Regions from separate parts of the Homo sapiens genome. Here region 1 is linked to region 2. The links come from fine-mapping of genetic effects on gene expression. A gene starts in region 2. The other region holds a variant in brackets. All regions are shown on one strand. Distances are from middle to middle. Region 1 overlaps METTL16 (methyltransferase 16, RNA N6-adenosine). Region 2 holds the start of METTL16 (methyltransferase 16, RNA N6-adenosine).

Region 1 (5,378 bases), 86 kb before region 2:
CACCATGTTGGCCAGGATGGTCTCGATCTCTTGACCTCGTGATCCACCCACCTCGGCCTCTCAAAGTGCTGGGATTACAAGTGTGAGCCACCGTGTCCAGCCTGAGAATTTCTTTCTTTAAAGTAGAAACTTTAGGCTGGGTGTGGTGGCTTATGCCTGTAATCCCAGCACTTTCGGAGGCCGAGGCGGCCGGATGGATTGAGCTCAGGAGTTTGAGACCAGCCTGGCCAACATGGTGAAACCCCATCTCTAGTAAAAATACAAAAATTAGCCGGGTGTGGTGGCCGCGCCTGTAATTCCAGCTACTCGGGAGGCTGAGGCAGGAGAATCACTTGAACCCAGGAGGTGCAGGTTGCAGTGAGATGAGATTGCGCCACTGCACTCCAGCCTGGAGACAGAAGGAGACTGTGTCTCAAAAACAACAACAACAAAAAGGATAAAAAAGAAAAAACACCAAGTCAGGTTTGAAGATCTTTTTCTGCTAAAAGGAATCTGACGACTGCTACTGATCATTCCAGTCGTACCTGGCCACACTGACAGCGCACACGCACACATGCAGACACCACAGGTTCTGATTACTGGGGGACGTCTTCTAATAAGAACTAACCAGCGGCCTCACACTGCATACATACACAACAACCTAACCAGTTTATTCTATACTAGGAAACTGTTAGGGAAGGATAAAAAACAAAGGGTGTGTGTGTGTGTGTGTGTGTGTGTGTGTGTGTGTGTGTGTTTGAAGAACCTGCTCTTGAGAAATGAATAGTGGACTCTAAGACCTGTCTGAACCTGAACTTGTTCAATTATGTTTCAGACAAGATGAGACAAATTCATATTGACATTAAGACAGTCATATTGTTATTACTCAATCATCCTGCATGAGAAACATAATTTCTAGTCTACTGAGAGCCTAACGCTTTGCAGTAAGGAGCTTACAATAAGCGTATTAAGCTGGGGAAGAAGCGTATTAAGCCGGTGTGTGGGAGGATGATGGGGGTGGAGAATCAGACTCCCCATTCCCCGTCCCAACATCAAAGGCCATGACCATGGAGAGCTCACTGCAACCTGGCCCTCCCTGCCAGCCCGCCCTGTACAGCAAAGGTCACCTACAAGCATGGCTAAAAGGGCAGCACTTCCCATCTCTTCTCACAGAAGGAGTGATCATTTTGCTCACAAATTCTGACCAGTAAAGTCAGGATATTGCTGTTTCTCATTATGCTAAAGCTGACCTGCGACACTCTTTCTCCAAAAGTAAGGACGGGCTTCATCATTTCTAGAGATTAAAATAAGAAAATACATCTTTACCAACCTGACAAGAACTCTATCAGGGATACTTTCAGAGTTCTGAGGAAGTCAGAAATCACAAAATCGACAACTTATTACCCAGTTATCTCAGGACTAAAATGAAAACTTCCCTCTCTCAAATATGGCTCCTTCACCTGCATCCTGACCCAACTTTCCCATATACAATGGTCAGTCAACAAACTTGATATTCCTGAAGATTTTTTAAAAAATTTTCCTTTTATTTTATTTTATTTTATTTTATTATTTTATTTTTTTTTTTGAGACGGAGTCTCGCTCTGTCGCCCAGGCTGGAGTGCAGTGGCGGGATCTCGGCTCACTGCAAGCTCCGCCTCCCGGGTTCACGCCATTCTCCTGCCTCAGCCTCCCAAGTAGCTGGGACTACAGGCGCCCGCCACTACGCCCGGCTAATTTTTTGTATTTTTAGTAGAGACGGGGTTTCACCGTTTTAGCCGGGATGGTCTCGATCTCCTGACCTCGTGATCCGCCCGCCTCGGCCTCCCAAAGTGCTGGGATTACAGGCGTGAGCCACCGCGCCCGGCCTTATTTTTATTTTTTAAATAGAGAAGGGTCTTGCTATATTGATTGCCCAGGCTGGTCTGGAACTCATAGGCTGAAGCTCTCCATCTGCCTCAGCCTCCCAAAGTGTTCGGACTCCAGGCCTGAGCCACTGCGCCAGCTGCATTCGGAAGATTTCTAATGAACTGCTCTAGCACACACATGCACACACATCATCTCAGGACGGTCTTCAATTTGGCTTTGCTCTACTATAGAAACTAGACATTAAGAGACAGACAGGCCAGGCGCAGTGGCTCACGCCTGTAATCCCAGCATTTTGGGAGGCTGAGGTGGGTGGATCACAAGGTCGGGAGATTGAGACCATCCTGGACAATATGGTGAAATCCCATCTCTACTAAAAATACAAAAAATTAGCCAGGCGTGGCGGCACACGCCTGTAGTCCCAGCTACTTGGGAGGCTGAGGTGGGAGAATGGCGTGAACCCGGGAGGCGGACCTTGCAGCGAGCAGAGATCGCGCCACTGCACTCCAGCCTCGGTGACAGAGCGAGACTCCGTCTCAAAAAAAAAAAAAAAGACAGATAATTCATACTCCAGGAGTTCTCAGGCAAGGCTTTTAAATGATGAAAGATTAACTGAAGTATGGCTCACAGCAGTTGTTCAGTCCCCTCTTATTTATCATGAAAA[G/T]TCCTCGTGGGCAGGGTCACAGTAAAATATAGGATCAAGTTCTAAGAAATTAATAGTTAAATTCAACACCACAGCTCTCTGGTCGTAGGCAATTTTTACATTTTGCTGCAAACACTAGTACATAGAAGCTGTCAGTTTTTCCCCAATTGAAATGATCTTATTTTGCTAATATCCTTATAATTGCAAAACACAAATATTTTAAATGAAGAGTGCTACACTCAAACTGTCATAATCTAGTTTAGCAGGCAAGGCGTACATAAATAATTCAACATTTTAAAGTCTACCCCAAAACCAATCATTTACAATGATTAATCCAGTTTAATGCAAAGAACTAGGTGAATTTACAGCTGATTTTGGATTTGAAGATGCACTGCTGGAATTACAATGTGAGAGAAGCCTGGTGAGCAGTCGTAGGTCTGCAGAGACCACAGGTTTTATATCTTTTGAATTCCAAGTAGTCAAGGAATGATCATCAATAAGAGAGGAACTGCAAGCGTTAAAAACACATTAGATCACAGAAGCCATCAATCAGGCACAAACAAACAAACAAACAAAAAACCAGTTCTTAAATTTTAAAATATGCTACGTAGCAGGGTGGTCTACAAATTTCTTTTCTTGTCTTTTTTTTTTTGAGACAGGGTCATGCTCTGGCACCCAGGCTGGAGTGCAGTGGCGCAATTACGGCTCAGTGCAGCCTCCACCTCCTAGGCTCAAGTGATCCTCCCACCTCAGTCTTCTGAGTAGCAGGGACTATAGGTGTGTGCCACCATGCCTAGCTAATTTTTGTATTTTTTGTAGAGATGGGGTTCTGCCATGTCGCCCAGACTGGTACAAATTTGAATCTTCACTTTAATTTCTAAATCTCAATGATGCCATCAGCCAAGAAACTTTCACATGTGGTGTAGCTTGACACAGATCAGTGTAGCATGTTATGTCTCCGTTAATTATGGCTAAGGCAAAAAAAAAAAAAAAAAGCCACAGGCTGAATGAAATCATTAAATTCTCTCTAGTATTTGCAGGAAGAGAAGAGCCATTCTACAGAGAAATCTGGTGCGCACGAAGCCACAACCTCTTTGTTTTGGCAAAGCAGCTTCTAGAAAAACCTCAAGTGGAAAGGGGACAGGGCAGAGAGGAGACCCCAGTGCAGTGGCCGTCTGTTTTTTAAAAGAGATAGGGAGTTACAATGTTGCCCAGGCTGGCCTTGAACTCCTGTGCGCAGGTGATTCTCTCACTTCAGCCTCCCAAGTAGCTGCAACTACAGGTGCACATCACCACACCCAGCCCATTTCTTTCATCTTAATCTGACAGGTCGTTGTTTAAAATGTCCTGAAATCACCCCCAGGAGTACGTAAAAACAGTAAAAAGTAAAAATAGCAGCCGGGTGCCATGGCTCACGCCTGTAATCCCAGCACTTTGGGAGGCTGAGGCAGGTAGATCACAAGGTCAGGAGATCAAGACTAGCCTGGCCAACATGGTGAAACCCCATCTCTACTAAAAATATAAAAATTAGTTGGGCATGGTGGCACGTGTCTATAATCCCAGCTACTCGGCAGGCTGAGGCAGGAGAATTGCTCGAACCAGGGAGTCGGAGGTTGCAGTGAGCCGAGATCACGCCACTGGACTCCAACCTGGGTGACAGAGCAAGACTCCGTCTCAAAAAAAAAAAAAAAAAAAAAAAAGTAAAAATAGCAAGGGGAAGAAAACTATTGCAGAATGCTACCTATTTAAGAAGGAATGATTATAAATACATACGTGTATTTCTTTGAATTTGAAAAAATGGGTCAGGCACGGTGGCTCATGCCTGCAATCCCAGCACTTTTGGAGGCCAAGGCAGGCAGATCACTTGAGGTCAGTAGTTCCAGACCAGCCTGGCCAACATGGTGAAACCCCATCTCTACTAAAAATACGAAAAAAAAAAAAAGAGCCGGGCATGGAGGCATACACCTGTAATCCCAGCTGCTCGGAAGACTGAGGCAGGAGAATAATAGCTTGAACCCAGGAGGCAGGGCCTGCAGTGAGCCGACATCGTGCCACAGCACTCCAGCCTGGGCAACGGAGCAAGACCCTGGCTCAAAAATATAAATACAAATAAAGGAATGATAAATTATAAAACTGTTTAAATAGTAACCCATGAAGAAGTAAAGGATTAGGGTGAATGAGATAGAAGAAAGAAGTCAGACTTCTGACCATTCTTTTGAGATTTTTTTCATTTCACAGGTAGAGAAATAAGAAATATATTTTATTACAAAACAAAACTAACAACAAAAAAGGCACTCCCTAAAAATCTGAAGATGATGAAACAAACGAACCTCTGTCCTGACTCCATGCAGAAAATTCAGAGTGGAAACGTTCCAAATGACTTTGAAATCCATCATGAGAGTCTCCAAGGACAAAAAAGAATTGTAAAAGTAAAAAAGTAGCTATTTTCAGAAATCACTTTGTTGATGGTAATGTTACTTTTGAGACTCCTGGGGCATATTGTGAGATAAAGTTAATGAGTAATATGTTGGCTGAGGACTGGAGTTTTTGGCATGGGATTCTTTTATTTTTTTAAGAGATAGGGTCTTCTGTGTTGCCCAGGCTGGCCTCAAACACCTGAGCTCAAGTGATCCCCCCGCCTCAGCCTCCTGAGTAGCTAGGATTACAGGCGTGCACCACCGCAGTCACAGGATTTTTGAATGGGAGATACAGATGGACAACTGATGAAATTAAGTAAAAACCCACAGATGTGAAGCTGAATAAAGTATCAGCAAGTATATGCTGGGTACAGTGGCTCACACCTGCAATCCCAGCACTTGGGGAGGTCGAGGCAGGAGGATCACTTGAGCCCAAGAGTTTGAGACCAGCTTGGGCAACATGGCAAAACTCCATC
Region 2 (5,378 bases):
CAGACATACTGGTCTTCTTCCATTTTCTCTGCTGCATGGTAGTCTGTCTCACCATCTCCTATTCTTACTGCCTGTAAGACTCTCCTCAACCTCCCACCATCGCCTTTCACCTCTGAAGGTCCACTAGCTACTCAAATCACACCCTAGGCATCATTTACTCAGGCAGCCTTTCTCTGACCCCACAATCCAATCAGATGCCCATCTACACGCTTTCAAAGCACCCTGTGCTGCTTCTCCCTCAGAGATCTTCAGTTTACTACTGGGTGTGTAATTAATTTGCATATGTCACACATAGACCTGCAACCATATCCATCCTAGTCTTTACTATACCCCCAGCAACCTGTATACAATAAATATTTTTTGAGTAAACAATTCAGAATTTGAGGGGATTAGTAGTCACCTGAAAGTTTTTCAGCATACTGTTACTACATTTTGCCCCTCACACTATGACTAAAAATGACTATATACCTGTCTTAATTTCCTAGCATTGACATACCCTTTACTGACCATCAGGAAAGAGGGGAGCATAAAACTAGGATGGCCCCCAGTTCTCAAGAAAACATCAACTGGGCAAGGTGGTGCATGCCTGTGTTCCTAGCTACTAGGGATGCCAAGGATAGCTTGAGCCCAGGAGTTCCAGTCCAGCCTGGGCCACACAGTGAGACCCTGTCTCAAAATAAACAAATACAAATAATAGACTTTATTAAAAAGAAAATATCCAAAATTAAAGTGTTGGCCGGGCACAGTCGCTCACGACTATAATCCCAACACTTTCGGAGGCCAAGACTGGAGGATCACCTGAGGTCAGGAGTTTGTGAGACCAGCCTGGCCAACATGGAGACCATCCTGGCCAACATAGTGAAACCCTATCTCTACTAAAAATACAAAAATTAGCTGGGTGTGGTGGCATGTGCCTGAAGTCCCAGCTACTTGGGAGGCTGAGGCAGGAGAATCACTTGAATTCAGGAGGCCGAAGTTGCAGTGAGCCAAGATCACGCCACTGCACTCCAGCCTGGTGACAGAGCAACACTCCGTCTCAAAAAAAAAAAAAAAATTAGCTGGGCGTGGTGGTGGGTGCCTGTAATCCCAGCTACTCGGGAGGCTGAGGCAGGAGAATCACTTGAACCCAGGAGGTGGAGGTTGCAGTGAGCCAAGATCGTGCTACTGCACTCCAGCCTTGGTGACAGTGAAACTGTCTCAAAAAAAAAAAAGAAAAAGAAAATGTTCTTTCTTGTGATTCTGGCAAGCAACAAAAAAAAGTAAACTAAGAGTAATTTCTTTAAACTGATGGAAAATATTTTCCCAATTTATGGGGGACATGTGACATTTATGCGGTATTTGTTCCACGCATAGAATGTGTGCTGATCAAGTCAGAGTATATGGGGTATTCACCACTTTGAGTATTTTTTATATCTATGTATTGGTAACATTTCAAGCCCTCTCCTAGCTATTTTGAAATATACATTGTTGCTGACTTTAGTCACCATATCCTAACAGTGACTTCAAGAGACAGTGGCATGTTAGGGCTCTGCCACACATTAAGGAAAATTCTACAGACTACATAGCTGACATCAGTGCACACACAACATAATACTCTGAATATATGTGAAACAAATTAAATTACAGACATGGCAGATTCGATTCATTTCCTACATTATTCAACTTTTCTGGTCAGAACAGATACAGAATGAGTAAATACAACCACTTCTTTTCTAACTAACCTCCCAATATAGGCAATGAGTTCTTAGCTAAATATAACCTATTCTTCAGAGTTTAACTGGGCATCAATTCTTTTTTTTTTCTTCTTGTTGAGACAAGGTCTTCCATTCTGTTGCCCAGAGTGCAATGATGGAATCATAGCTCCCTGCAGCCTCCAACTCCTGAGATCAAGCAATCCTCCCGCCTGAGCCTCCCAAGCAGCTGGGACTACAGGTACAGAGCACTGCACCTGGTTAATTTACTTCATTTTTTGTAGAAAGGGAGTCTGGCTTTGCTACCCAGGCTCTAGCTTCAATTTTCTACACAGAATTTACCCATCTGGCATTCCATATATTTTACTTACTTTAAAAAATCTCCCGTCAGTAAGTTTCAAGAGGGTAAATATTTTGTCTGTCTTGTTCACCGCATATCCCAACGCCTAAAATAGGGCCTAAGAGAGTAGGCACTCAAGTATTTGTTGATTGAAACCACGATAGAACTCTTCCCTGTCTGGACCACCGACACAAAGCACCCTCACTGAGTTTCAAAAAAAGCTCAGCCCATGGACTGGAACTTTTCTTCCCGGTTACTTGAGTCAGTCCAGAAAGCCACAGTTAATAGTAGAACCCTGAGAATGAGGCTTTCCCTTTTTTTTTTTTTCTTTCTCATCTCCATGCTTCTGTTTCCTTGGTTCCTCTTGACCATTAACCCTCTTCAACTACCACTCTCTTGATACACAGCCTGTAAAACAGTCTAAATTCCAATTTCAGAACTTCAAATTCTTTCTGCACAGATCCCTCCCACTTCCACACCAATCTACATCTTCTCTCTTCGCCTTCTCTCATAAATCCGACGTTTCCCACTAGTCCTGCCACTGCCGTTCTTTCCATGCCCTCATTTTATCAGCTCAGTTTGTCTTCCCGCCTCAGTTTTGGATCTCTCTAAACCTCCTAAACACCGGGGAGTCTTTCCTACTTCAGTCCTAGTCTCTATTCTATTCGCCAACTCCTCCCACTCATCCACTCTCAACACCCCCGCGTGCGCACACACAGCCACATCAGGTCTCCCCTCCTAGACCCCGAAGTCGGCACCTCACTAGCCCAAAACTCAAGAATGAGGAACCCGTGTGATCCACGGGTTAAGTGACCCATGATAGTAAATCTGCGTGAGAGATATAAGTGACCCACCTCTGAGGCCGAGGTTCCTGCCAGACGTCGTGTCTGGCGTGGGCCTGTACAACCCTAGAATCTTAAAGCAGCCGCATAGCGAAGCTCCTAGAAACGCAGATGATACGCTCCCAGCGCGCCGCCATCTTGTGAAGCCATCTAGCCTCGTGATTGGACACATCCCTCTCGCGCGACCTGTGGCTGATCTTGAAGAAAGAAGAAACCCTCGCGACACCTGGGGTTTGCTGCTCCTAACAGAAGGCGCGGGGGCGTGGTGACGAGCGGAGTCCTTTGAGGTATGGCAGGAGGAGGACATGCGTTCGAATTCGCGAGAAAACTTATTTAAAAGAAAAAGAAACAAGTTTTCCGGGCCCTGCTGCAGACTTACCTCTCACACTCACTGGGATTGGGCAGGTTATGAAGATGAGGGTACGAGACTTGGGTGTGATGGCGTGCAGTGAGCCCTTTTTGTGCAACAGGTGTGTCCTCAGCCGATGTCTCACTCACTGAATTGTAAGAGATATAAGCCTGTGGGTTGGGGAAGAGTACTCTCGTTTACAGCGAAAGAACTGAGGATCCGGCCGGACGCGGCGGCTCACGCTTGTAATCCCAGCACTTTGGGAGGCTGAGGCGGGCAGATCACCTGAGGTCAGGAGTTCAAGACCAGCCTGGACAACATGGTGAAACCCCGTCTCTACTAAAAATACAAAAATTAGCCGGGCGTGGTGGCGGGCGCCTGTAATCCCAGCTACTCGGGAGGCTGAGGCAGGAGAATCGCTTGAATCCGGGAAGCGGAGGTTGCAGTGAGCCAAGATCGCACCACTGCACTCCAGCCTGAGCGAAAGAGCAAGACTCTGTCTCAAAAAAAAAAAAAAAAGGGGGGGCCTGCCTACGTCCTCGTCGTTAATGTGAACGCTTCTGGCAAACTATTACCATAAAATTGGGAGATAGTAAGGATTAAGGAATGGAGACTTATACACAAGTGAGTACCAGTAGTCACCCAAGGAAAGCTGAGGAGGTGTTTTCATAATCTGTTGTGTAACAAACCGCCCCAAAACGTAAGACTTAAAACAACCACCATTTTACTTGCTCACAGTTCTGCAATCTGGGCTGGGATTAGCCCACCCGTTCTGCTGGTCTTGCCAGTGGTCATAGCAACAAGTGGGGGCTGGTTCCGCTGAAAGAACTGGGTCTCTCTCCCTGTAGTCCAAGTTCTCTCCCTGTCCACGTGGCCTTTCCATGTAATTTGTCTAGCAGAGTAGGATGACATTTTTTTTTTCCCCCGAGATGGAGTTTCTTATTGCCCAGGCTGGAGTGCAATGGCGCCATCTCGGCTCACTGCATGCAACCTCTGCCTCCTGGGTTCAAGCGATTTTCTTGCCTCAGCCTCCCAAGTAGCTGAGTAGCTGAGATTACAGGCGCCCGCCACCATGCCCAGCTAATTTTTTGTATTTTTAGTAGAGACGGGGTTTCATCCTGTTGGCCAGGCTGGTCTCAAACTCCTGACCTCAGATGATCCACCCGCCTCGGCCTCCCAAAGTACTGAGATTACAGGCATGAGCCATCGTGCCCCGCCAGAATACTTCTTACATGTTGGCTCGGGGCTCCCAAAAGGGCAAAAGTGGAAGCTGCCAGGCCTTCTTAAAGCGTAGGTGCAGAACTAGCACCTTGGCTATATTCTTGGTTAAAGCAAGTAGAAGGGCTAGCCCCAATTCAAGGGGAGGGGACTATGCCAGGGTCCCTTCCAATACTGGAAGGCATGGTTCATTTCAGCAACCAATGTAACATATTACCACAGAAAGTTTTCCATCTTTGGTTGGTAGTGGCTTTGATACTAGTTATGGCATTTTATTTAGTGCATGCTGCTGGAAAGGTAAAAGAAAAGATGGCCTCGGAGATAGGACTGGTGGGGTTGAAGTGATTGTATTTAAGATATTGGTAACTTTCTGTTAGCTCCAAAGAGCAACCCAGTTTACCTGTAGGTCGGGCCAGAGAGACCCTAGTAGCACTGCAGCTGGGAAACCTGGCCTTTAATCCTGCCCCCACCATTTACTAACCCTGTGAGTATGGGCAATTTGCTTAAACACTTGAAGGCTTAGTTTGCTCAATATTACAAAATAGGATAATAATCTCATGGGGTTGTGAGAATTAAATCAGATAATGCATATAAAACAGCAGAATGTCTAGTATATAGTGAGTTCCTAATAATAATAATATTGTTCCTTATAACTTCTCTGGTCAGTTTTTTTTAAGTATTCCATAAAGATAAAACATTTTAATAACTGAAAATTTTTAAATAATTTAAATAATACATAAAGATATCAGAAAGACAAAAATTATCTAAAATCTCACCACTCACAGCCAAGCACCATCAAATTTGGGTAACCTTACTACTAAACCTCTATATCTCATAAGGATATATAACCAAATAATTTTTATACAAATAATAATATATATTTGTATATATATGTAATTACATATATATACACACACACACATGCACATATACTCAAA

The links. PIP is the estimated chance that this variant, and not a neighbour inherited with it, causes the effect. A credible set is the group of variants that fine-mapping cannot tell apart.
Region 1: its variant is the best candidate, but not a certain one, in a credible set for the expression of METTL16 in subcutaneous fat (GTEx, PIP 0.79).

Annotation. Positions count from the first base shown.
Region 1 is chr17:2,422,568-2,427,945 of GRCh38, forward strand. All of the region lies in intron 8 of METTL16 (methyltransferase 16, RNA N6-adenosine), which reads right to left. Among named protein-coding and RNA genes, the nearest start is that of MNT, 24 kb to the left of the region's middle. The variant G/T (reference allele first, on the strand shown) is at 2,507.
Region 2 is chr17:2,508,874-2,514,251 of GRCh38, forward strand. It overlaps METTL16 (methyltransferase 16, RNA N6-adenosine), which reads right to left and starts at 3,015. Exons shown (of 10, transcript NM_024086.4): 1 at 2,886-3,015. RefSeq lists enhancers at 2,886-3,095, 3,166-3,215.